Regions from separate parts of the Homo sapiens genome. Here all the other regions are linked to region 4. The links come from fine-mapping of genetic effects on gene expression. A gene starts in region 4. Each other region holds a variant in brackets. All regions are shown on one strand. Distances are from middle to middle.

Region 1 (5,778 bases), 21 kb before region 4:
AATCCCAGCACTTTGGGAGGCCGAGGCGGGCGAATCACAAGGTCAAGAGATCCAGACCATCCTGGCCAACATGGTGCAACCCCGTCTCTACTAAAAATACAAAAATTAGCCGGGCGTGGTGGCAAGCCCAGCTACTTGGGAAGCTGAGGCAGGAGAATCACTTGAACCTGGGAGGCAGAGGTTGCAGTGAGCCGAGATCGCGCCATTGCACTCTAGCCTGGGCAACTAGAGAGAGACTCCGTCTCAAAAAAAAAAAAAAAAAAAAAAAAAGAATATAATTTTTTAAAACCTATTTCCTATTTTATTATTTTTTAGATGGGGTCTCACTATGTTGCCCAAGCTGAAATGAGACCTTGGCTAACTGCAGCCTTGACCTCCCAGGCTCAAGCGACCCTCCTACCTCAGTCTCCTAAGACACGGGGACTACAGGCACATGCTACCACGCTCAGCTAACTTTTATATTTTTTGCAGAGATGGGGTCTCACTATGTTGCCCAAGCTGAAATGAGACCTTGGCTAACTGCAGCCTTGACCTCCCAGGCTCAAGCGACCCTCCTACCTCAGTCTCCTAAGACACGGGGACTACAGGCACATGCTACCACGCTCAGCTAACTTTTGTATTTTTTGCAGAGATGGGGTCTCACTATGTTGCCAGGGCTTGTCTTGAACTCCTGGACTCAAGTGATCCTCCTGCCTTGGCCTCTCAAAGTGCTGGAATCACAAATGTGAGCCACCATGGCTGGCCTAAGTTTTTTTTAAAAAAAACAAACATTGAATTATTATTATTATTTTGAGGAAGGAGTAAAGACTTCACCATTTTCTGAGGGAGAAGGAAAGACCTCACTGCAATAGAATTGCCATATGGCTCTGATGAATTCTGTCATCTCACTGTGTTTTATTAGTTGTCCAGATCGATTTTCCTTTCTTGGGGAATCACAGGAGATGATGGATATAAAGCCATTGCCACAAAGTTTAGGACTAACACAAAGATGTTAAAGATAGGAAAAATTTGGCCGGGCACGGTGGCTCATGCCTGTAATCCCAACACTTTGGGAGGCCAAGGCAGGCGGATCACGAGGTCAAGAGATTGAGACCAGCCTGGCCAACATGGTGAAACCCTGTCTCTACTAAAACTACAAAAATTAGCTGGGCATGGTGGCGTGCACCTGTAGTCCCAGCTACTCGGGAGGCTGAGGCAAGAGAATTGCTTGAACCTAGGACGCAAAGGTTGCAGTGAGCTGAGATCATGCCACTGCACTCCAGCCTGGCAACAAACAGAGCAAGACTCCGTCTCAAAAAAAAAAAAATAAAATAAAAAAAGGATAGAAAAAATTCTGGGCCAGATACCATAACCTTTTATATGACATCACTGAAGTTAGAACACAAATGGTGGCCATTTATTAGTATTTTATAACAGGTTAGATTTGTAACACAGTTTACATTTTATATCTTATAGTATTAGGGGCATAATTTTAGAATAGGTGCACCAAAATCTCACCTTTATAATTAATGAACATCAATTATTGTGGTATAATGGTACAGAAAGCAATCCTTTTTTTTTTTTGAGACAGTCTCACTGTCGCCCAGGCTGGAGTGCAGTGGTGCGATCTCAGCTCGCTGCAACCTCTGCCTCTGGGCTCAAGCAATTCTCCTGCCTCAGCCACCCGAGTAGCTGGGATGATAGGTATGTGCCACTACGGCCACCTAATTTTTGTATTTTTAGTACAGACGGGGTTTCACCATGTTGGCTAGGCTGGTCTCGAACTCTTGACCTCAAATGATCTGCCCACCTTGGCCTTCCAAAGTGCTGAGATTACAGGTGTGAGCCACTGCACCTGGCCTTAATGCTTCGTTTTTAACCCCATAGTACCAATTATGGGCTACAGGACTATGTTTAATCTGAATTTCATTTCCCTTACTTGGAAAATGGAGCTAAAACCATCTGTTTTAAGTGTAATTTACTGAGATCACAACATAACAGTATCTGGCAACTTTTTTTTCCATTTCTACTGTTTATTCAATAAATTTTAACTGAAAAATCTATCTGTGAAGGCATATGAGATGAAAACAATTCGACTGCTGTGTTTCCACTGATGTCATCCTTAGCCAATGCTTTTTTTTTTTTTTTGAGATGGGGAGTCTCACTCTGTCACCCAGGCTGGAGTGCAGCGGCGCCATCTCCACTCACTGCAAGCTCTGCCTCCCGGGTTCCCACCATTCTTCTCTCTCAGCCTCCCTAGTAGCTGGGACTACAGGTGTCTGCCACCACACCTGGTAGAGACGGGGTTTCACCATTAGCCAGGATGGTCTCGATCTCCTGACCTTGTGATCTGCCCACACCTGGCCAGCCAATGCTCTTTCTACTATGCTTTGCTGCTTCCTGTACAATGTGCAAATTATATTTGTGCCCAACTCAGTAGTTCGTAACACAATCACAAATTTTCCGTAGTTTTCCCAGTTTCTGCTCCATGAAGTACGTAAAAAGAAAACTATTACCTCTATCATCACGCCTATAATCATCCCGAGAGTAATCATCTCTGGAGCTCCACGACCGATCATCCCGTCTGTCATATCGGTCTTCATAGCGGTCCCCGCCTCCTCTGTAGTCATCATCCCTGCGATACCCACTGCCAAATGCTCTTCTGCCACTGCCTATCCGGGAATCATAGCCTGTAAATATATCCCAAATTATAATCATCACAGCGGAGGGGGAAAAAAAAAAGGCAAAGTTACTGAAAGAGCAATTCGACATGTTTTACAATTACCTCTATCATAGTCTCTGCTGCCTCGGTCATCATAGCGATCCCGGCCACCATATCGATCCATATCCCGGCGTGGGCCATCCCGATACCCATCCCGATACCCATCCCGATACCGGTCTGAATCATAACGATCTCGATACTCTAGAGGAAACAGACAAGTAACACCATCCCCTTTTCTCTGACACCATTAATAGAAACACGGTAAGCTATCAGTCCAATTTGGAAGAATCTGTTTATTTAAATTTTCTATCTGATTTCTTCAAAAAGTTTCCCTGGTGAAATAATTGTTGCTCAGCTAATAATTTGGGAAGGGTGGGTTGGAAATTAAAAAATCCCTAAATATTCCATAATGAATTTCCAGAAGGAGAAGAGGTTTACATGCAAAAACAAAAAACAAAACAAAGCACAAGACACTAAAACAATACAGTTGGGAATCTCCCATGTTTGATCCCAAAGACCACTTATTTTTTAATTAAAAAAATTTTTTTAGCTGGTCACGGTGGCTCATGCCTGTAATCCCAGCAGCACTTTGGGAGCCCGAGGTGGGCAGATCACGAGTTCAAGAGAT[C/T]GAGACCATCCTGGCCAACATGGTGAAACCCCGTCTCTACTAAGGATACAAAAATTAGCTGGGCGTGGTGACGCACACCTGCAGTCCCAGCTACTTGGGAGGATGAGACAAGAGAATGGTGTGAACCCGGGAGGCGGAGGTTGCGCTGAGATCATGCCCCCGCACTCCAGCCTGGCGAGAGAGTGAGACTATGTCTCAAAAAAAAAAAAAAAAAAAATTTTTTTTTTTTTTGAGAGACAGTCTCTCTCTGCTGCCCAGGCTGGTCTTGGACTCCCGGGCTTAAGCAATCCTCCAGCCTTGGTCTCCCAAAGTGCTGGGATTATAGGCCTGAGCCGTAACACCCAGCCTCAAAGATCACTTTAAGAGGCAAACAAAATGAGAAACAATATATGCAACATATGACTAACAGGACATAATTTTCTATTGAATTTTAGGAGCTTAAATCAATTTCTGCACTGCTGATCATAATTTTAAATGGTACAAATACACTTTGGGAGGTTGAGGTTGGTGGATTGCCTGAGCTCAGGGGTTTGAGACCAGCCTGGGCAACATGGTGAAACCACAACTCTATCAAATATACAAAAAATTAGCCGGGCATGGTGGTGCAGGCCTGTGGTCCCAGCTACTTGGGAGGATGAGGTGGAAGGATCACTTGAGCCAGGGAGGCAGAGGTTGCAATGATCCAAGATTGTGCCAAGGCACTCCAGCCTGGGTGACAGAGTGAGACTTCCTCTCAAAATAAATAAATAAATCAATAAATTAGTATAAATACTGAAAGTTGTATTAGAACTATGCATGAAAAGATTTGAAGTCATGTATACCCTTCTTGACCAACAATTTAATTTCTTGAAATTCACTGAGGAAATAATTGGATGTGTGATAAAGATACATGTACAAAGACATTCATTGCAATGTTGTTTATGTTATAAACTATATTTTACACACACATGTGCATTTCAGTATCAGAGGACCCTAAATACTAGAAATCTGTATAAAGAAACGTAGTAGCTCAGATAGCAAACTGTGGGTAGCGTTATGTTGTTTGTAAAAGGGATAGCTGCTATTTAGCTCCAGCTGACTGTTGCTAGGATCTTCCAATTTTCTGAGAGAAGCTGGCAACCCAGATTTTAAAGTTAAAAAAAAAATCTGAATTTCTAAATATAAATTAACTAACTAAAACAACCTACACGTTTTAAGAGCTGATAATTTATGTATGGGGGACAAACAGGGATCTTTTTCTTTCTCTTTTTTTTTTGAGACGGAGTCTCACTCTGTCGCCCAAGCTGGAGTGCAGTGGCACAATCGCGGGCTCACTGCAACCTCCACCTCCCGGGTCCAAGCGATTCTCTTGCCTCAGCCTCCCCAGTAGCTGAGGTTACACGTGTCCGGCTAATTTTTTTTTTGTATTTTTAGTAGGGACAGGGTTTCACCGTGTTAGCCAGGATGGTCTCAATCTCCTGACCTCATGATCCGCCCGCCTCCGCCTCCCAAAGTGCTGGGATTACAGGCGTGAGCCACCATGCCCGGCCAGGGATCTTTTTCTTGTGGCTGCTGTCTTTTAAATAATGATTTCATTTTGGAAACCACATAATTTTTACTGACCAGACATAACATTTCCTGGTATTATAAACTTTATATATTAAAGAACATGCTAATGTTAGTAAAATGATTATAGAAATGATCTAAAACAGGACACATATAAGAAAATCAGCCCTGTGTTTATTTTGAAATGTGGTTTTAATTTCTGGAGATGCGATTTACACTTAATTTTATTTGGGTAATACTGAAATTATGATAAGCTTGTGTTTCCTGAGAAAGCATAGATCCATGCTGGAGAAAAGCAGCACATGCTATTACTGACATTTCATAGGAATACTGAGTGTAATACCCCCCAACACCCCTCGGGGTTCTCTTTTTGGCCTAATGCTTGGGACAGGAGTCTCTGGATCTTTAATTCAGGTTAACTAAGTTGACTTTGGGGCAGCTTTGGATAACAACAGCACACTCACTCGTTATCCATTCTGCTTGCTCTAAATTCAAGGTTTCAGGTGAGAAAAGTCATGCCCCTGGACTCAAAACAGGACCCTTGGTCTGATTGTCTGCTTTTTCTTTCAAGAGCCATTTCTTCCTGTTAACAATAGAATCTCTTGCATAAATGCTGAAGTTAATCACCTCACATAGTTCTCCCCAAGGCTTTGCTGTGTCACAAAGTCATGTAAAAAGTCAGATATAAACTTGCTGATTTATCCTTCTTTCAGACCTATGACCCATTCTTCTTCCTTCTACATCTTAAAAGGTTAAGGACTCTCCTCTAAAAGGAATTATACATATCCCTTACTGCTTCCCCAATTATATTTAGTACAAAGCTCAAAAGGTACCTCACAAAATTAAAATGCTTGTGCTGGGAGCGCTGGCTCACACCTGTAATCCCAGCATTTTGGGAGGTCAA
Region 2 (5,778 bases), 37 kb before region 4:
ATGTTGCCCAGGCTGGTCTCCAATTCTTGAGCTCAAGCGATTTCCCCTTCTTGGCCTCCCAAAGTGCTGGGATTACAGACGTGAGCCACCGTGCCCGGCCCATTGCCCTATTTTAAAGAGCTGGACCGTCATTCCCAGTTCGCAGGAGACCTCTGAGAAGGTCTTCCTTACATTTAACTTGAGTCCAGCCTTTCCAAATGGAGATGGAAGTTCTTTCTATGGTCTGACCTCATTCCCTTCTTTTGCAGTGCCTGGTACTGGATAGGAACTTCATGGAATGGAGCTAATGGGCCGTAGGGCAGGTTTGAGTCGTGCCACCCTGGAGCAGAAGGTGGAGGGTAGGGATAAGGTAGGGGACATCTTCCTAGAAGTTCTGAACCTGTTGCCATTCCTACATTCCCCCAACGTCCTTTAGCAGTGAGCACTTCCTGAAACTTTCTCCCTCCTTCACCCTCCCTGCTGGATTTTCCATGATGAAAAGGGGCGGGGGGAAGGAAGGTTGGAATTCTGAGAACCCAGTGCCCAGGGCTCAATGCCCAGTGCTTGCCCAAAGTAGCCAGTACCACTGGCTCTAAGGCCTTCTTTCCCTCCCCGTCTCATCTCAACTGGGTCCCTTGTCTTTGGCAAAGGCTGAGAAGTCTGGTTCTCATTTCCAGGGGGTGGAGCACCTGATTCCAATCTTGCCACAGGGAAGAAGAGTCTGTGAAGAAGTGCGTGATGACTGTGTGTCCCCCCCCACCCAGAAATTGGCATTTGGGAGGGGTGGATATGGTTGGGACTGGGGAGCCTTGATCTTACTGCTCTTGGTTGAGTTGGTGTCCAATAGACAGTTTCAGAGGTTAGAGCAGTGGGAGTCACTGGGGACTGGGGACAGGAGAGGTGGGGGTGGGGGAAGCCAGGCGGGAATGAGTAGGGAGGCACTGGGAGGAGGGGAGAGGCAAGAGTTAGGGGAATACCGAGGAAAGTGGCAGGGATTGGAGGCTCCTGGAGAAAGGGCAAGGCTGAAGGTTGTCCCATGTATTTTGGCCAGATTTGATTATGTAATCGAGAATCATGAGATAATTAAGTGTGTTCATGTCTCTGGAGCCTTCAACCAGCTCTTTTAACATCTTGCTCTTCCCAGCATTCCTTAGGGTCTTTGGCTGGGCTCTGGGATGGATGCCATGGGAGTACCTTTACTTAAGCTCTAAAGTTACCAATGGAGAGACTGGGACTCAAAGAGGAACTTGATTGGACCCCAGAGAGGTGAGGGGTAAGGGCTAGAACCTCACACATGCTGGTTTTGCTGCTGCCTGGCAGGCCCATGGGAAGAACTTTAGAGGTTCCAAGGAATTGGAAAAGGGTCACAAGATGGGTGGCCAAACTCCCAGCTCAGGCTTGATTCCTACTCTCAATGTGGGGATAGTGGAGAAGGGGGCTGCAGGAAGGGCTGAGAAAAGCTGAGAATGAGAAGTTATACAGGAGGTAGCTTGGTGGGAGTGAAACAAAAATGAGTGGTTCATGGGCCAGCCAGGCATCCTGATTTCCAGCTCACAGCAGCAGGAGCTTCAGAGAGGAAGAAGGAGAGGAGGAGAAAGCCAGGTTGATGTTAGTAAAGGTCAAACAATTTCAGGAGCACCTCTGACCTCCCTCCACACAGGTTTTCTTACCTTGACTATGCAGAGGGTGGTCCATCTTGGCACTGAAGATGGAACCCCCTCTTCCATGGTCTGGGGTGACCCCATGCCTGTAACTGAATGTGCTCAGATCCTTGGGGTGCGGGGACTGTAGGGGGAGGATTTGAAGGTGTGGGACTGTCCTGGCTGGAGACCACTGGGTCAGGAGAACTCCAGTAGAGGGTTTGGGTGCTGGGAACCAGGAAGAGTGGGGGAAGGGGCAGAGCCAACTCCAGAGGCGGATCTCCTGGCTGAGGACAGAGGGTGTATTGTCCAAGCTGGAGGTTGCTGTAGCTGGGCGGGGAGCAGCTCAGCTCGTCTCTTCCAAATTTCTTTTGGGGGAGGGTAAGGGAAGGCAAGCCCCCCTTTACTTGTGGCCCTGGGGGCTACAATGGTTGCTGAGAAACAAGGCTTATTTGACAAATAATGCTTCCCAGGAGCAGATGTGTAGCTCTCTCACTTCCTGAGAAACCAGATGCTGTGAGCTCGCTTAGCACTTGAGGCGACGCCCTCAGCACGAACTGGGACCCTAGTGCCTTGGGATCCGGAGTATAGTGCTTGATTCTATTGAGAAGAAACGAGGCTAATGTGGACTGGGAGACACACGGGACCTAATCAGCCTCAAGTTAGCCCTTTTGAAGTAGGTTGCTGCACCTGCACTTTCCCCCTACTCGTCCACTAGTTCAAGATTTACAAGACGTTGACAATGAGGGCTGACCAGTCCTGGGTCCACTCCTGCAGCTGGGGGGCTTCTCGGTGGACCCACACTTTTTTTTTGAGACAGGGTCTTGCTCTGTTGCCCAGGCTGGAGTGTAGTGGTGTGATCACAGCTCACTGCAGCCTTGACCTCCTGGGTTCAAGTGATCCTTCCTCCCAAGTAGCTGCAACTATGGGCATACACCACCATACCTGGATAATTTTTCTATTTTTTTGTAGAGACAGGGTCTTGCCATGTTGCCCTGACTAGTCTCAAACTTCTAGGCTCAAGCGATTCTCCTGCCTCATCCTCCCAAAGTGCTGGGATTACAGGTGTGAGCAACCATTGAGACAAGAGTCTCGCTCTGTCACCCAGGCCGGAGTGCAGTGGTGCGATCCCGGTCCACTGCAACCTCCACTTCCCGGGTTCAAGCGATTCTTCTGCCTCAGCCTCCTGAGTAGCTGGGACTACAGGTGTACACCACCATGCCTAGCTAATTTTTGTATTTTTAGTAGAGACGGGGTTTCACCCTATTAGCCAGGCTGGTCTAGAACTCCTGACCACATGATGTGCCCGCCTTGGCCTCCCAAAGTGCTGGGATTACAGCTGTGAGCCATGGCACCTGGCCACACACGTCTTTTTAAATTTAAATGAGGATGTGGCCATATTACAGCCCAGGTTTTCTCTGACTTTAGAGTACCTTTTGGGACATAGGGCCTTCCTCTCTACCCTTTCTGTACACAGCCATCATAAACCTCTTTCAACAAGCCTTTCCTATTTTTATGTTCCTTCTTTCCATCATTTACCTAGACCTCATTATTGCACAGCTGAGAGTGGCTTGAAACAAAGGCTTGGAGAATGTGAGTGAAACTGATTCCTGTGGTGG[A/G]GAGGCAGTGAAAAAGCATTACCTTGTAGGTTTCCAGGCAGCCTGGACAATAGGGGCACCTAAACCCACATTGAAAAGCCTTCACATCATCACAGCTGAGTCTCATAGCCTTCAACTTTACCAGTTTTGGAGAACAGAGATAAATGCACTGGCCAGAAACTAGAAGAGCAGCTGCTCCAATTGGCTGGGAAATCATTTAACTGGCTCCTCATCTTGGCTCTTAAATCCCCAAAATTGTTGACTGAGGTTTCCCGGGCTCCTTTCTATGCTCCACCTCCTTGTGACCTTAAGGATTCTCTGCCACTGTCCTAACCCCTTTCCCGCCTTGCAACAATGACCAGTCTGTCCCTAGCTGTTTGGAAAATTCCCACTGAGTCTGTGAGCCTCTGTTCTGGTAACCTCGACCAGCCTGTCACCAGTATCTCTGGTCCACCAGTGCGGTGTAACTCAAGGGAGCAGCATCTCTCCAGATTGCTGAAGTGAGGGAGGGAGATTATGAGGGAACTGCCCCAAGGACACAAGGATTCATTCTTAGAGTTCCCACATCTTGATTAAAATAAACAGTACAGGAAATAGACTGCAGGCACATCCAGGTGATTAAAAAATTTAACACCAGGCAAAAAAAAAAAAAAAAAAAAAAAAAAAAGCCAGAGGGGAGCTAGGATGCAAACTCTATTATTGGGCCTCAATAAACACTGAAATAGATTCCCTTGTAACCCCACCCTCTAATCTTGGACAATATGGTATCCAATACTGAATGAAAACTTCAGAGATGGTAGGAGGAGGAGGAGCAGGTGGTCAATGACTACAGTAAAAACCACTGGGAGTGCAGAGTATTTGTCAAAGAACTTCAGCATTACAATGAACTTTAAAGATCAGATTTATTTGGAGAAAACAAAAAACCCACAACCCAAAGGATGGGATTTTACATCAAGACATCTCCCAGGTAATAAGTCTACAGATTACAAATCATTTTCATAGAAGATATTTTTGTACAAATTTTACATGTATTCAGGAGCGGGACATTAATCAATCCCTGTTTCTATTTTAATAGGGGGGACAAGGTAGGGGAGAGGGAAAAACAGTTTTGGATATAACTATTTGGAAGGAGAGTAGACATGAAGAGGGCAAACCCTAGCTTTTCATTATCTACAATCAATAGTTTGTTTTTCTTTTTTAAAAAAGAAAGAAAAACCCTTTCAATCTTCAATACTCTTTAAAAGCCCACTTCTTAGCTACTGGCCAATCCACACCAATTATTTAAATTCACTTGGTACACACCTTTGTCCACTGGGTAAATTATATTCATTATGCCCACTGCTGCAGCACGCATAAACCAACACCCCTGCATGGCTGAACAGGGCCTAATCTAGGACTGATGGGAGAAGGGCTTGCAAACCAAGATCAAGGTGTTTCTCCGCTAATACTGTCTACCAAGCTGATCCCTACAAAAATGCATATAAAAGCAGGCAAGTTTAGCTACTGTGTTGCAAGAGAAACCAGGACCTTGTTAAATAGTTCTCTCCATTACCATTTATTCTCTCAAGGGAAGCTTAAAAAAACAACAACAAAACAACACATTGGTCTGGCCACCTCATGAATCCAACAAGCATTAGTGTGGCATTTCAGTGGAGAAGGAAACTTGGGGGGAAAAATCCCATCAAGGTTGTAAGAAAGGCTCCCAATTTAACTGTCCCTGTCCCTATTTATCCATCATCCAAGACCATCCATTATTCTAGAGCACTCTGATCAATAAAAGGGGTCCAAGCATCAGGAGCAGGCAAGGAGAACCAAAAGACATCAAGAAACCGATTTGCTTGAGAAAAGCAGCGATTCTTCCTTTCAGAGTTCTCCATGGCTGAGAAAATGCCCAAGACATCATGTATGTGACTTAGATACTGCTTTTTGGGAGGTTAAGAGTAGCATGAAGAACTTAAGATGATGATAAGAGTCTAAATTTTTAGTTTCAAGGTTTCAATAGAATGTGGATATATTCAAAACTTTCAAAAAGGACAGTGTTTAGAAAGGGTAAAACTAGGACACAGAAAACACTGGGAATTACCACGACCCCCAAGTGCTTCCGGCTCCAGGAAATAACCATTCATGTGTTTGCTGGAGGTCACACAATTTTCCCCTATTACCTGGTGCAAAATGACTCATCACTTCCCAAAAGCTTCTTTTCAAACCACGATTTTCCCATTTATTTTGGTCCAATGCAGTCCCATTCTTTATGGCCTATAGTCTCACTCCCAACTACCCCCCTGGGGGGTTAAAAAAAAAAAAGGAATTCCCTCTAGGCTGGCCCCCAAAACTCAGAATTAAATAAGAGGAGGGGCTGGCAGCCTCCTGGAGACTAGAACAACTTGAGGCTAAATCTACCTTTCCAAGAGTGGAAAATTTATTCAGATAATGTTTGAGAATTCATATATGCCACAATAGGATAAAAACTAAAAGGTAGAAATCTCACACTTTTCCTTCTACCTCCCTCCCCTACTGCCCAACCAGGTTCCAGGCATTATATCACTGTCATTACCATTTCT
Region 3 (5,686 bases), 30 kb before region 4:
AGGCACCTCTAGTCAACAGTCCTTGTTGTCTGGATGATGTATTACTTCTAGATTTTCAGAATCTTAACTGTCTACGTTGGCTGACTTTAGTTTGCTCACAATGAGCGATCTGGCAGTGCTCTGAGAACCAAGAACTTAATTTCTTAATTACACAAACATGTGGATCAGAGGAAAGATGAGAAAGAGAACAAGCATACCTATCTGACTCCTTCCAGTGGTCTCTGTTCCCTCCGTCGCCTGGACCACGGCTAGAGTTCCCAGTTTGGCCTTTTGGGGCATTCATCCCATCTACTTTATTTTCATCTGCTTGGGCAGTAATGTAAACAAATTAAAGGCAAGTAAAAGTATCAATGTCCCTCTCCTAAGATTTCCCTTAAGCTGAAGAAAATTGTGCCCACATGTACTGAGGGAAACTAACCTCACCCCAACCCAGACTTCCTTCCTGAAGCCCTTCTTTCCACATCCTCTACAGCACACAAAAATACAAAAAACAAACAAAATCCACTAAAAAGTTCCATGTAGGGATATGCCATCATGAAAAGCAAGCTGGAAATAAAGATTATGACGCTCTGTAGTGACCTTGGTTAATTTCCTTCCGATTTTTTTCTCCCCGTCAAAGAAATGTTCTACCAGGAAAGGGCAGGGTTTCATACTTTCTCCAAAGAGGCCACTCCTCCCTCTACTGGCAAGAAAAGGTAGATAACCCAATAATTCTTTTTTTTTTGAGACAGAGTCTTGCTCTGTCGCCCAGGCTGGAGTGCAGTGGGGCCATCTTGGCTTACTGCAACCTCCGTCTCCCGGGTTCAAGCAATTCTCCTGCCTCAGCGTCTCCCGAGTAGCTGGGATTACAGGCATGTGCCACCACACCCGGCTAATTTTTTTTGTATTTTTAATAGAGACGGGGTTTCACCATGTTGGTAAGGCTGGTCTCAAACTCCTGCCCTGTGATCTGCCCGCCTTGGCCTCCCAAAGTGCTGGGATTACAGGTGTGAGCCCCTGCGCCTGGCCAACCCAAGAACTCTTAACACGGTATCAGGTGCGAGACACACTGCTCTTCAAAATCTAATTTTGGAGGCCTTTTTATTTAGGCTTCTAGGTGAAAAACCTATTTCCCATACTATGAGCTCACCTTTCCTTCCTGGTCCTTCCTCAGATGGTTGAGCTGGAGCTACTTTTCCCCCACCACTAGAAGGAAAACAGGTAATCACATTCATCAGTTGTTTCAGGGAGAAAACAACCAAGAAACATAATCATCCTCCAAATGCAGTGGGTAAGCTTTATAGAAAACAAAATCATACTCAATGTTATGGAACATTAAAATATGGGAAAGATTACAATGAAAGCAGTAATTTGAACACTAAAGTGCCATATGCTTTCTAATCATCACATCATGCAGGATTAGTATTGCTATTTTCTTTTCTTTTGGAGTCTTAACTCTGTCGCCCAGGCTGGAGTGCAATGGCACATCTCGGCTCACTGCAACCTCCGCTCTCAGGTTCAAGCAATTCTCCTGCCTCAGCCTCCCGAGTAGCTGGGATTACAGGTACCTGCCACCACGCCAGGCTAATAGTGTTGCTATTTTGCTTACAAATGAGAAGACTTAAGAGAAATGAAAGGAAGTTACCCCCTACCATACTGCCAATATGTGGCAAAAGGGAAGCCTCTGACTTACAGTATTTGCAGATTTGTGCGGCATTAGTACTCCCATCATAGCTGATTTCAAGCTATCAAAGTGGTGGAACTCCAGAAAATGGAACAACTAGGTCTTATGAGCCAGTTCCAGCACACTAAGAGACTAAAGCCAGCATAACTTATAAGGTGCTATACAACGCTGGCATCCCGTAGGAGATCTTCCATCATTACATCACAGTATTTTAGAATCTGCAGTTAACCAACTACTGTTTCCAAACTGACTCACCTTGTAGGGGACTGCTGCTCTGTGTCTGAGCTCTGAGATCGAGCAGGAGGGTTAGAACTTCGCTTCACCCAAGCATTCTCCTTTGGTGGAGGGGCTGGCATTACCTTTAGGGGCTGATCAGGTTTGGGAGGTTTAGAAGTTGGAGAGTGGCAATCTTCCTCCTTATTGAGTGTTTCATTTTCTAGAGACTTCTCACTCTCTCTCCTTCGTGCATCTGTGAAGCCAGAGTGAAAATATCAAATTATCAGGCTGCAGATGCTCACGCATCTACCAGGATCTCAACAGTGTGGAAAATGGTCCACATCCAAGTTTTGGCTCCCAAAGATGGATTTATCCCTAAACCAGTGGTTTACAAGTATTTCCAGAACAATGTCTTACTGATGCACAGAGAAATAGAAAAAATAATGACCATGTATACAACTTAAGGGACACCCAGCCATGTGACCTTTTTAGGAATGAGTATCCTTTACAGCCTTTCTGCATTCTCAATGTTAAAAGTGTCTTGACCTGGAGAATATACATATGTGAAGAGGACCTACAATGAAACCCCAAACTCTAGTAACCACTGCTCAACTTCAGCTTAAAACTCAACACACATGGACTATGATGCAATCATATTTATGAAAAACCACCTACTGGCTGGGTGCAGTGGCTCTCGCCTGTAATCTTAGGATATTGGGAGGCTGTTGGGGGCGGATCGTTTGAGCCTAAGAGTTTCAGACCAGCCTGGACAACATGGTGAAACCCCAGCTCTACAAAAAATAGACAAATTAGCTGGATGTGGCATGTGCCTGCAGTCCCAGCTACTAGAAATGATGAGGTGAGCTGTGATCATGTTGCTGCACTCCAGCCTGGCTGACAGAGTGAGACTCCATCTCAAAAAACAACAACCTACAC[G/A]TGCGTTTTTTAAAAAATGCAGTTAAGTGTCTTCTAAAAACAAGGAGCCCCCATTGGGAGGCTGAGGCAGGATTGCTTGAGGCCAGGAGTTTGAGACCAGCCTGGGGAGTGTAGTGAGACCCCATCTCTAAAAAAACAAATTTTTTAAATTTAGCCAGGCATGGTTGCGTGCACCCGTCGTATAACAGCTACTTGGGATATTGGGGCAAGAGGATTGCTTGAGGCCAGGAGTTTGAGGCTGCAGTGAGCTATGATCGCACCACTGCACTCCAGCCTGGGTGAGAATGAAACCCTGTCTTAAAAATAAAAAACTAGGCCGGGCACGGCGGCTCACGCCCGTAATCCCAGCACTTTGGGAGGCCAGGGCGGGCAGATCACAAGATCAAGAGATGGAGACAATCCTGGCCAACATGGTGAAACCCCGTCTTTACTAAAAATACAAAAAATTAGCCAGGCCTGGTGGCAGACTCCTGTAATCCCAGCTACTCGGGAGGCTTGGGCAGGAGAATCACTTGAACCCGGGAGGCAGAGGTTGCAGTGTGCTGAGATCATGCCATTGCACTCCAGCCTGGGCAAAAAGAGCGAAACTCCGTCTCAAAATAAATAAATAAAATACAAAAATAAAAAATAAAAAAAATAGAAGGCCAGGCATGGTGGCTCACGTCTGTAATCCCAGCACTTTGGGAGGCCGAGACGGGTGGATCATGAGGTTAGGAGTTTGAGACCAGCCCGTTCAAAAAATTAGTCGGGCATGGTGGCGCTCACCTGTAATCCCATCTACTCAGGAGGCTGAGGCAGGAGAATTGCTTGAACCAGGGAGTCAGAGGTTGCAGTGAGCCAAAATCGTGCCACTGCACTCCAGCCTGGTAACAGAGCGAGACTCCATCTCAATAAATAAATAAATGAATGAAATGCAAGTACAAATCAATTTAGAGGTGGGAGGAAAGACCTTAAAAAATATCACAGTGGCTGGCCCTTGGAATCCCAGCACTTTATGAGGCTGAGACCAGCCTGGGCAACATGGGGAAACCATCTCTACAAAATTTTAGCTGGGTGTAGGCTGGGTGCGGTGGCTGACGCCTGTAATCCCAGTACTTTGGGAGGCCGAGTCGGGTGGATCATGAGGTCAGGAGATTGAGACCATCCTGGCTAACACAGTGAAACCCCATCTCTACTAAAAATACAAAAAATTAGCTGGGTGTGGTGGTGGGCACCTGTAGTCCCAGCTACTCGGGAGGCTGAGGCAGGAGAATGGCATGAACCCGGGAGGCAGAACTTGCAGTAAGCCGAGATCGCGCCACTGCACTCCAGCCTGGGCGACAGAGCGAGACTCGGTCTCAAAAAAAAAAGAAAATAAATAAATAAAAAATTTAGCTGGGTGTAGTGGTGCATGCCTACAGTTCCAGCTACTAGGGAGGCTGAGGGCTGAGGGAGGTGAGGCTACAGTGAGCCATCATCATGCCACTGCACTCCAGCCTGTGTGACAGAGTAAGACCCTGTCTCAAAACAAAATACAAAAAAAACACATCATGGTAAGGGAAGGGAGGTATTACAATTGAACCATTTAGGTTTCCAAAACACTAAAAGTGCTTGATCAACCAGTAATAACACTGCTTGAGAACACTGCTCTGGTGATGATAACATCAAAAAAGGCTGGTCTTGGGACAGCTCACATGAAACTCCAAGCCGTTGACTGTTCTGAATAAACAACATTCAAAGATGTCAAGACATAAAATGAAAATATACCAAAAAAAAAAAAAAAAAAAAAAGAGAGAGACAAACCTAACAACCAAGTATACACTTCAGTGGTAGATTATTAAGCAGATCATCTAGGTCTACTCTGGTACCCATTCCTCAGATTCTTTGGAGCAGAAGATATGAAACTCCAATCGGCCCATGCAACCCAAATAAAGAGTTCATGACTGAATTTAAATATTGCAGGGTCTCTGCATAATTTGGTTATGGATAGTTTATGGAAAACGGCAATAACACGATACCCACCCTGGTCTGACTTACTTCTGCTAGATGTGGTGGAGGTCCCAGTTTGTGATGACTCACTTCCTGTCCTCGACCGTTCCCGTTCCTGAGTTTCTTCACTTCGCCAGCTTGGGTGTCTGTACGAGAGATTCACAAAATACACATTATGCCTGGCTCAGTGAAGGCCACCTTAGACCCATGCTGACCCCTCAAGAACCATCACTTACTTCATCTATATGTGTATATGCATATAAATTTATCTTTCCCTCAAACTATTTGAAAGCTACAGACATTAAGACACACTTTGGCCCTAAATACTTCAGCAAGAATCAACTAATATGGTTAAGAACAGTATCCTACATAATCTACAATACTGCCCTTCTTTACTAATCAACACAGTTCTACAAGCCACTCATTACCAGGCCTAGTTTTTCAGGGCAATTACTTATTATAGTAGGTCTCTAGCCTTTTAGATACAATACCAGCTTTTAATAGTAAACACTTTTGTAATGGACAGGGAACAACTCTTCATTGTGTAAAACTGTCCCTAACACTGCATACTGCCTAACACCCCTGGCCACAGCCCACTAAATGCCCATCAGTGACAACCACTAATGTGATAACGACACAAATTTCCCAAATGCCCCTGGGGATGTAATGCCCCCATTACGAACCACCGGATTCCTAGATGGGATATCCATCAAGACAACACACCTCTCCCGAGGCCGTCGTTCTAGTTTTGGCTCATCCAGCTGACGCTGCAACTTCTCTTGTTCCTTCTGTAGCCGTTCTTCTACTTCTCTTTCTCTAGCAGCTGTGTCAACAGGCTTTGCCCCTCCAAAGATAGAAGCAGCTCGAGTGGACTGGGAGGTACTAGCAGAGGAATCATCTTCC
Region 4 (5,778 bases):
CTGCAGAGCATCTTCTCCCTATAAAAATAATCAAATAAGATGTCACACAGGACTGCATTTTGAAGCATTATGGAAATGAAAGGCCTGTGCATGAGCTTACATATGTTATTTCCAATTTTAAAGTTTGTTTTTGTTTTTTTTTTTTGAGACGGAGTCTCGCTCTGTCGCCCAGGCCGGAGGGCAGTGGTGCAATCTCAATTCACTGCAACCTCTGCCTCCTGGATTACAGGCGTGAGCCACCACGCCCAGCCCAAAACCCCGCTAATTTTTGTATTTTTAGTGGAGACTGGGTTTCACCATGTTGGCCAGGCTGGTCTCGAACTCCTGTTCTCAGGTGTTTCACCCACCTCAGCTTCCCAAAGTGCTGGGATTACAGGCATGAGCCACTGCACCCTGCCCAATTTGAAAGCATTTTAAATGTTAACCTGTATCAAACGCATTTGATTCCCTCTAGGTAAGGGGACAGCAGATAAATAATGACCACTTTCCAGATAAAGAAACTGAGATTCAAGCGGTAACTGGCTTATTACTGGCAAGTCTACTAAAGTAGTCACAATGAAAATTTAAGAAAAATGAAAAACTTCGTATTTTTAAGATTTTTTTTTGAAATGGAGTCTTGCTCTTTTGCCCAGGCTGGAGTGCAATGGCACAATCTCGGTTCACTGCAATCTCCCCCTCCCAGATTGAAGCGATTCTCCTGCCTCAGCCTCCGGAGTAGCTGGGATTACAAGCACGCGACACCACGCCCAGCTAATTTTTGTATTTTTAGTAGAGACAGAGTTTCACCATGTTGGTCAGGTTGGTCTCCAACTCCTGACCTAGTGATCCGCCCGCCTCGACCTCCCGAAGTGCTGGGATTACAGGCGTGAGCCACCGCGCCCGGCCTTTAAGAATTCTTTTTAAGAAGCAAAGCAAGGAATTAAGTGTACTGGCTCAATGTATCAAGTTTCTAGGAATTCAAACTATCCTCATTCTATAGTTAGTTCTGAGACCTACCTTAGTTCTTGAAGGTCAATAATGGATCACACTGGAAACTGGTATTGCTGCAAAGAATTTTTTGGTCTCATTTAACAGTAAAAGAGGCGTATGAAGTTGTTTTATGTATTTTCACACAGAACACATAACATCCATTTCCCACATCAGGGAATACTGGTTACTTCACAAAGCCAGTGTGACTGGAAAGAGGAGCGGGGAAACAATCCGATAAACCCCAGATTCCTCAAGAACAGACTGAAAGATGTGACTTGTGCTCAGATACCAGTACCAGCTAAAAAGATTTACTGAAGTGAATTAAAGGAGATGAGGGTTTTCAAGGGGGTAGAGTAAATATGGAAGAACAAGAGAATGGGACGTCAGAGTAAATCCCTTTTATCAGTCTGGATTTCCCTCAACTCGGTAAAACGAAGGACATGAATTGCTGTCCTATGTTCCGCCTCTAAAAATTACACAAAAGTTAAGAAAACACAGATTTTCTTCACTAAATTACGATACTAAACTGTTAAGGTGGCAAATCCAGACCAAGTAAGTACTTTAAGCAATGGTTAGTTTAAAATATATTTAGGACTTTTACTAGCCCACTGGAGAAAAAAATATGAACATTTTTGTAAACTTCAGATGCTTTCGGGCAGCGTCCTAAACTGATGATGACACCTTGATACTTTTAAGTTGCTAAGGAGTCTCAAAGATTATGACCTTGCTCTGCCAGCTGAGAGCAGTGTGGCCTTAAATAATATTCCTTAGCTGAGAAATACCACTAGCTCTCTGCAGTACCTCAGGATGGAAGGAGACAACATGCACAAAAGTGCTTGGTCAACTGTCAAGCGTTACACCAATGAAAGATGTTCAAATGCACCTCAAATTTCTCAACATTTTCCAAAGCCAACCAAAACCCTTAGCTTCTTTGTAATAGAGACGATGAATTACTAGGTAAGAAATGAGCACCCAGAGATAGAAGTTCAAATAATGTTTTGAAGAATGCAAGGTCATGCCAGAGAAAACAAACTATATTCCTCAAACTAAAATCAATGCTACAAGATGTTGGGTCATCACTGCTTTTATAAGCCCATTAGAAATGTAATTAGACTTGCAAGGCACTGATACTCCCCTCCAAGGTTGTCTAAAGAAGTAAGCAACTCCAGCCATTAGTAAGCACTATTTTAAAAGTACCTGCTGGTAGTTGCACAGTTACCTTAAAAAAAAAAAAAAAAAAAAAAAAAAAAGGCTGAAATCTACCATTGGAGCTATCCAAATTCAACCAACATGGAAGCGCCGGAAGCGAAACCTGATCCTGGCATATAGCTGCGCTGAGTAAAAAATGCCTCCAATTGAGTATGAGAAAAAAGCCTAGAAGGAAATCTAGGTGCACACCGGTGCTTCTCCAACACGTGGGCGCACCTAACTGGATTCCCCACCCCCATCTAACGCCAATAGCACCAACCTCCAAGGCTAACACACACACCCTTAGAAGAATACAGGCACAGGGCCCACACTCTAGAAAGGGAAGAGACAACCTAAAAGGACATAAGTGCGCAACACAGGCGCGTTAAAAAGCTTCCCATCTGGGTTCTAGCGCACGCATTGAAGGCGCGCCCGTCTCTACTACCCTCGTGTCTCCTACCGCGCACGCGCACCGCTGCCTTCCCCCGCCCCTCCACCAACTCGCGCTCGCGTTCCAACTGCTCCCCCCCACCACACTTACTCCCCTACCCCCCACTCCGGTCCGCTACAGCCTCGCGCCTTGGAGACGTAGTCTAATGTGCACTCGTCCGCGCAGCAACCGCCTCCTTCCTTCCTCCACGCCTTCACGCGGGCACGGTGATTCACGTCTACGAAAAGGCCTCGCACCACCCGCACACCTTTCTGCGCCTCCTTCCCCAATTCAAGCCAGAGTCTACCATTACTGCCTATTCCAATCTCGCGCAGAAAGGGTGAAAAGAGTGTGAGGGGGAGGGGAAGGTGTCCTTCCCCTCCCCCCCAAACATCCAGAGGCAGTAACCTAACAGGGCCACGCCGCCAGCCTGCCGCAGCCCTCAATTCAGAAAGGAACCAGTGCCAGCAATTCCCCGACTTCAGGAAATCAGTGGATCACGCTCGGAGGGGGGTTTCAGAGCCCAGTCCTTGGCCGCGCTCGGCTGCTCGCTCACCTGAGGCCGCCATGTTGGGAGAGGGAAAGAGAACGCAAAAGACCCGGATGAGGCAATCACGTGATTATAGCGGGCGCGTCGAGCTAGGAGACGCGAAGCTGGGAGGGGGCGGGGAGGTGAGGACGGAGACAGGAGGCGGGGCGGCGCTGCTCTAGGTTCGTAAAGCTGCGCGGCGAGGTGGCACGCCGTCCGACGGGAAGACATGCGCGACATGTGGCCAAAGGGGCGGGGCCTGGGTTGTCGCGAAACCCCTCACGCTTTACGTAGGGCTACACGCGAGCGCGGGGCTGGAGCTGAGTCCTGGCCGGCCTCCTGACGCACAGACTTCCTGCCGGAAGAGTGGCGGGAAGGGCGGGGCTTCGCTGCTGCTTCTGCTTACTCTGCACGGAGCCGGTGATGGGTGTGGCGAAATGGATGTGCTGAAAGGGAAGATTCTGAGTTTAATGTACTTTTTTGAGACGGAGTTTCGCTCCTGTTGTCCGGGCTGGAGTGCAATGGCGTGCGCGACCTCGGCTCATTGCAACCCCCGCCTCTCGGGTTCAGGCGATTCACCTGCCTCAGCCTCTGGAGTAGCTGGGATTACAGGCGCCCACCACCATTCGCTGCTAGTTTTTTGTATTTTTAGTAGAAACGGGATATTTCACCATATTGGCCATGCTGGTCTTGAACTCCTGGTCTCAGGCTATCCACCCGCCTCGGCCTCCCAAAGTGCTGGATTATAGGCGTGAGCCACCGCGCCCGGCCTAGTTTTTAAAAGCCACATCAGAAATCACTGATTTTATTTTTATTTATTTTTATTTTTTGAGACGGGGTCTCGCCCTGTCTCCCAAGCTGGAGTGCAGTGGCGCGATCTCGGCTCACTGCAGCCTCAACCTCCGGGGCTCAAGCAGTTCTTCCACCTCAGCCTCCTGAGTAGCTGGGACCACAGGCGAGTGCCTCCAGGACCAGCTAATTAAAAAAAAGTCTTTGTGTGGAGACAGAGTGGCGGGCTTGGGGGGGGCGGTGTGTCTCCCTGTGTCGCCTGGGCTGGTCTCGAACTCCTGGACTCAAGCATTCCTCCCTCCGAGGCCTCCCACAGTGCCGGGATTACAGGCATCAACCACTGTTTGTTTTCAAATTACTTTTTGTAAAGGCAAAACAAATCGAACGTCTTGTGTAAGAATGGTTTTAATGAGGCATATTTAGACGGAATAAGAAGGTAACAAATGCTGAACACTTAATTGTCATGGGCTTTTACCTCATTTAATGGTCCAATTTGCTGACTAGGTTTAGTCCAACTTAGGCCTTTAGGATTTCTGAGACTAGGGCTATTCATGCTTCCCCTAGCTGATGTTCCATTTCATTCATTAAATGAAAATTTTTGTTTCCCACCGTGTGCCAGGCACAGACACTTGCGGGTACAACATGGAATAGAACTGTCCCAAAAGAGGTTATATTCTAGTGGGGGAAGGACAGATAATAAGCAACTAATAAAATATTACAACAAGTATTCTGTGAGTAATTAAAACAAGGTGGTGTAATAAGTTATTAGGTGCAACTTTAGATTGCCTGTCAGAGTAGACCTCTGAGGAAGTGACATTCAGACAGAGGTCTAAATTACAAGCTGCCATCCCTGGGAATGTCTTCTGAAGAGGTTTAGGAGAAGACAGGATGCGCAGTTGGGTTTGCTGCAATATGGTGAGGGCAGGGGAGGGAGGAGTGGTACAGGATGAATCTTGAGAGAGAGGGGCTGGATCATGTGAGGCTGATCATGTGAGGGGATTGGGAAAGTGTGGAATGATTTAAGGCAGAGAAATGTCATGAGTTGAAATAAAATTTTAAAAAGGATTACTTAGTATCCTGATGTGAGTGGTGGTTACATGGGTGTATATCTAGAATTCGTATACTTAAGATTTGTGAATACTTAAGATTTGTGTACTTTATGTAAGTCACGCGTTAATTAGAAAAAAAGAGATTACTCAGGCTACTGAATGGAGAGTGCAATTGTCAGAGGTGTTTGAACCGGAGCAACTCCTTGAATAGGGCTGGGTAAAATAAGTCTGAGACCTACTGGGCTGCATTCCCAGAATGTTAGGCATTCTTAATCACAGGATGAGACAGGAGGTCAACACAAGTTATAGGTCACAAAGACCTTGCTCATAAAACAGCATGCAGTAAAGAAGCCAGCCAAATCCCATCAAAACCAAGATGGCGACTAAATTGACCTCTCCTCACTGCTTATTATATGCTAAATATAATTCGTTAGCATGGTAAAAGATACTCCCACCAGGACATGACAGTTTACAGATGCCATGGCAATGTGAGGAAGGGGGAGGAACCCTCAGTTCGGGAATCGCCCTCCTCTTTCCAGGGAAAACATGAATAATCCACCCCGTGTTTCCCATATAATCAAGAAATAACGGTAAGTATTCTTAGTCAAGCAGCCCATGCTGCTGCTCTCTGCCTATGGAGTAGCCATTCTTTTATTCCTTTTTCTTTTCTTTTTTTTTTTTTTTTTTGATACGGAGTCTCGCTCTGGCGCCCAGGCTAGAGTGCAGTGGCGCGATCTCGGCTCACTGCAAGCTCCGCCTCCCGGATTCACGCCATTCTCCTGCCTCAGCCTCCCGAATAGCTGGGACTACAGGCGCCTGCCACC

The links. PIP is the estimated chance that this variant, and not a neighbour inherited with it, causes the effect. A credible set is the group of variants that fine-mapping cannot tell apart.
Region 1: its variant is the best candidate, but not a certain one, in a credible set for the expression of EIF4B in whole blood (TOPMed, PIP 0.67).
Region 2: its variant is the best candidate, but not a certain one, in a credible set for the expression of EIF4B in whole blood (TOPMed, PIP 0.64).
Region 3: its variant is the best candidate, but not a certain one, in a credible set for the expression of EIF4B in whole blood (TOPMed, PIP 0.56).

What each region holds. Positions count from the first base shown.
Region 1 is chr12:53,024,906-53,030,683 of GRCh38, reverse strand. EIF4B (eukaryotic translation initiation factor 4B) reads right to left here. Exons shown (of 15, transcript NM_001417.7): 7 at 2,765-2,902; 8 at 2,496-2,669. Among named protein-coding and RNA genes, the nearest start is that of EIF4B, 21 kb to the right of the region's middle. The variant C/T (reference allele first, on the strand shown) is at 3,330.
Region 2 is chr12:53,040,532-53,046,309 of GRCh38, reverse strand. It overlaps EIF4B (eukaryotic translation initiation factor 4B), which reads right to left. Exons shown (of 15, transcript NM_001417.7): 15 at 4,095-5,778. TNS2-AS1 (TNS2 antisense RNA 1) reads left to right here. Exons shown (of 4, transcript NR_033854.1): 3 at 249-349; 4 at 657-3,121. Among named protein-coding and RNA genes, the nearest start is that of TNS2, 6.6 kb to the left of the region's middle. The variant A/G (reference allele first, on the strand shown) is at 3,239.
Region 3 is chr12:53,033,855-53,039,540 of GRCh38, reverse strand. EIF4B (eukaryotic translation initiation factor 4B) reads right to left here. Exons shown (of 15, transcript NM_001417.7): 9 at 5,507-5,686; 10 at 4,832-4,929; 11 at 1,919-2,132; 12 at 1,130-1,185; 13 at 198-303. Among named protein-coding and RNA genes, the nearest start is that of TNS2, 13 kb to the left of the region's middle. The variant G/A (reference allele first, on the strand shown) is at 2,816.
Region 4 is chr12:53,003,862-53,009,639 of GRCh38, reverse strand. It overlaps EIF4B (eukaryotic translation initiation factor 4B), which reads right to left and starts at 3,184. Exons shown (of 15, transcript NM_001417.7): 1 at 3,144-3,184. The coding sequence starts at 3,156. RefSeq lists enhancers at 2,326-3,069, 3,070-3,813.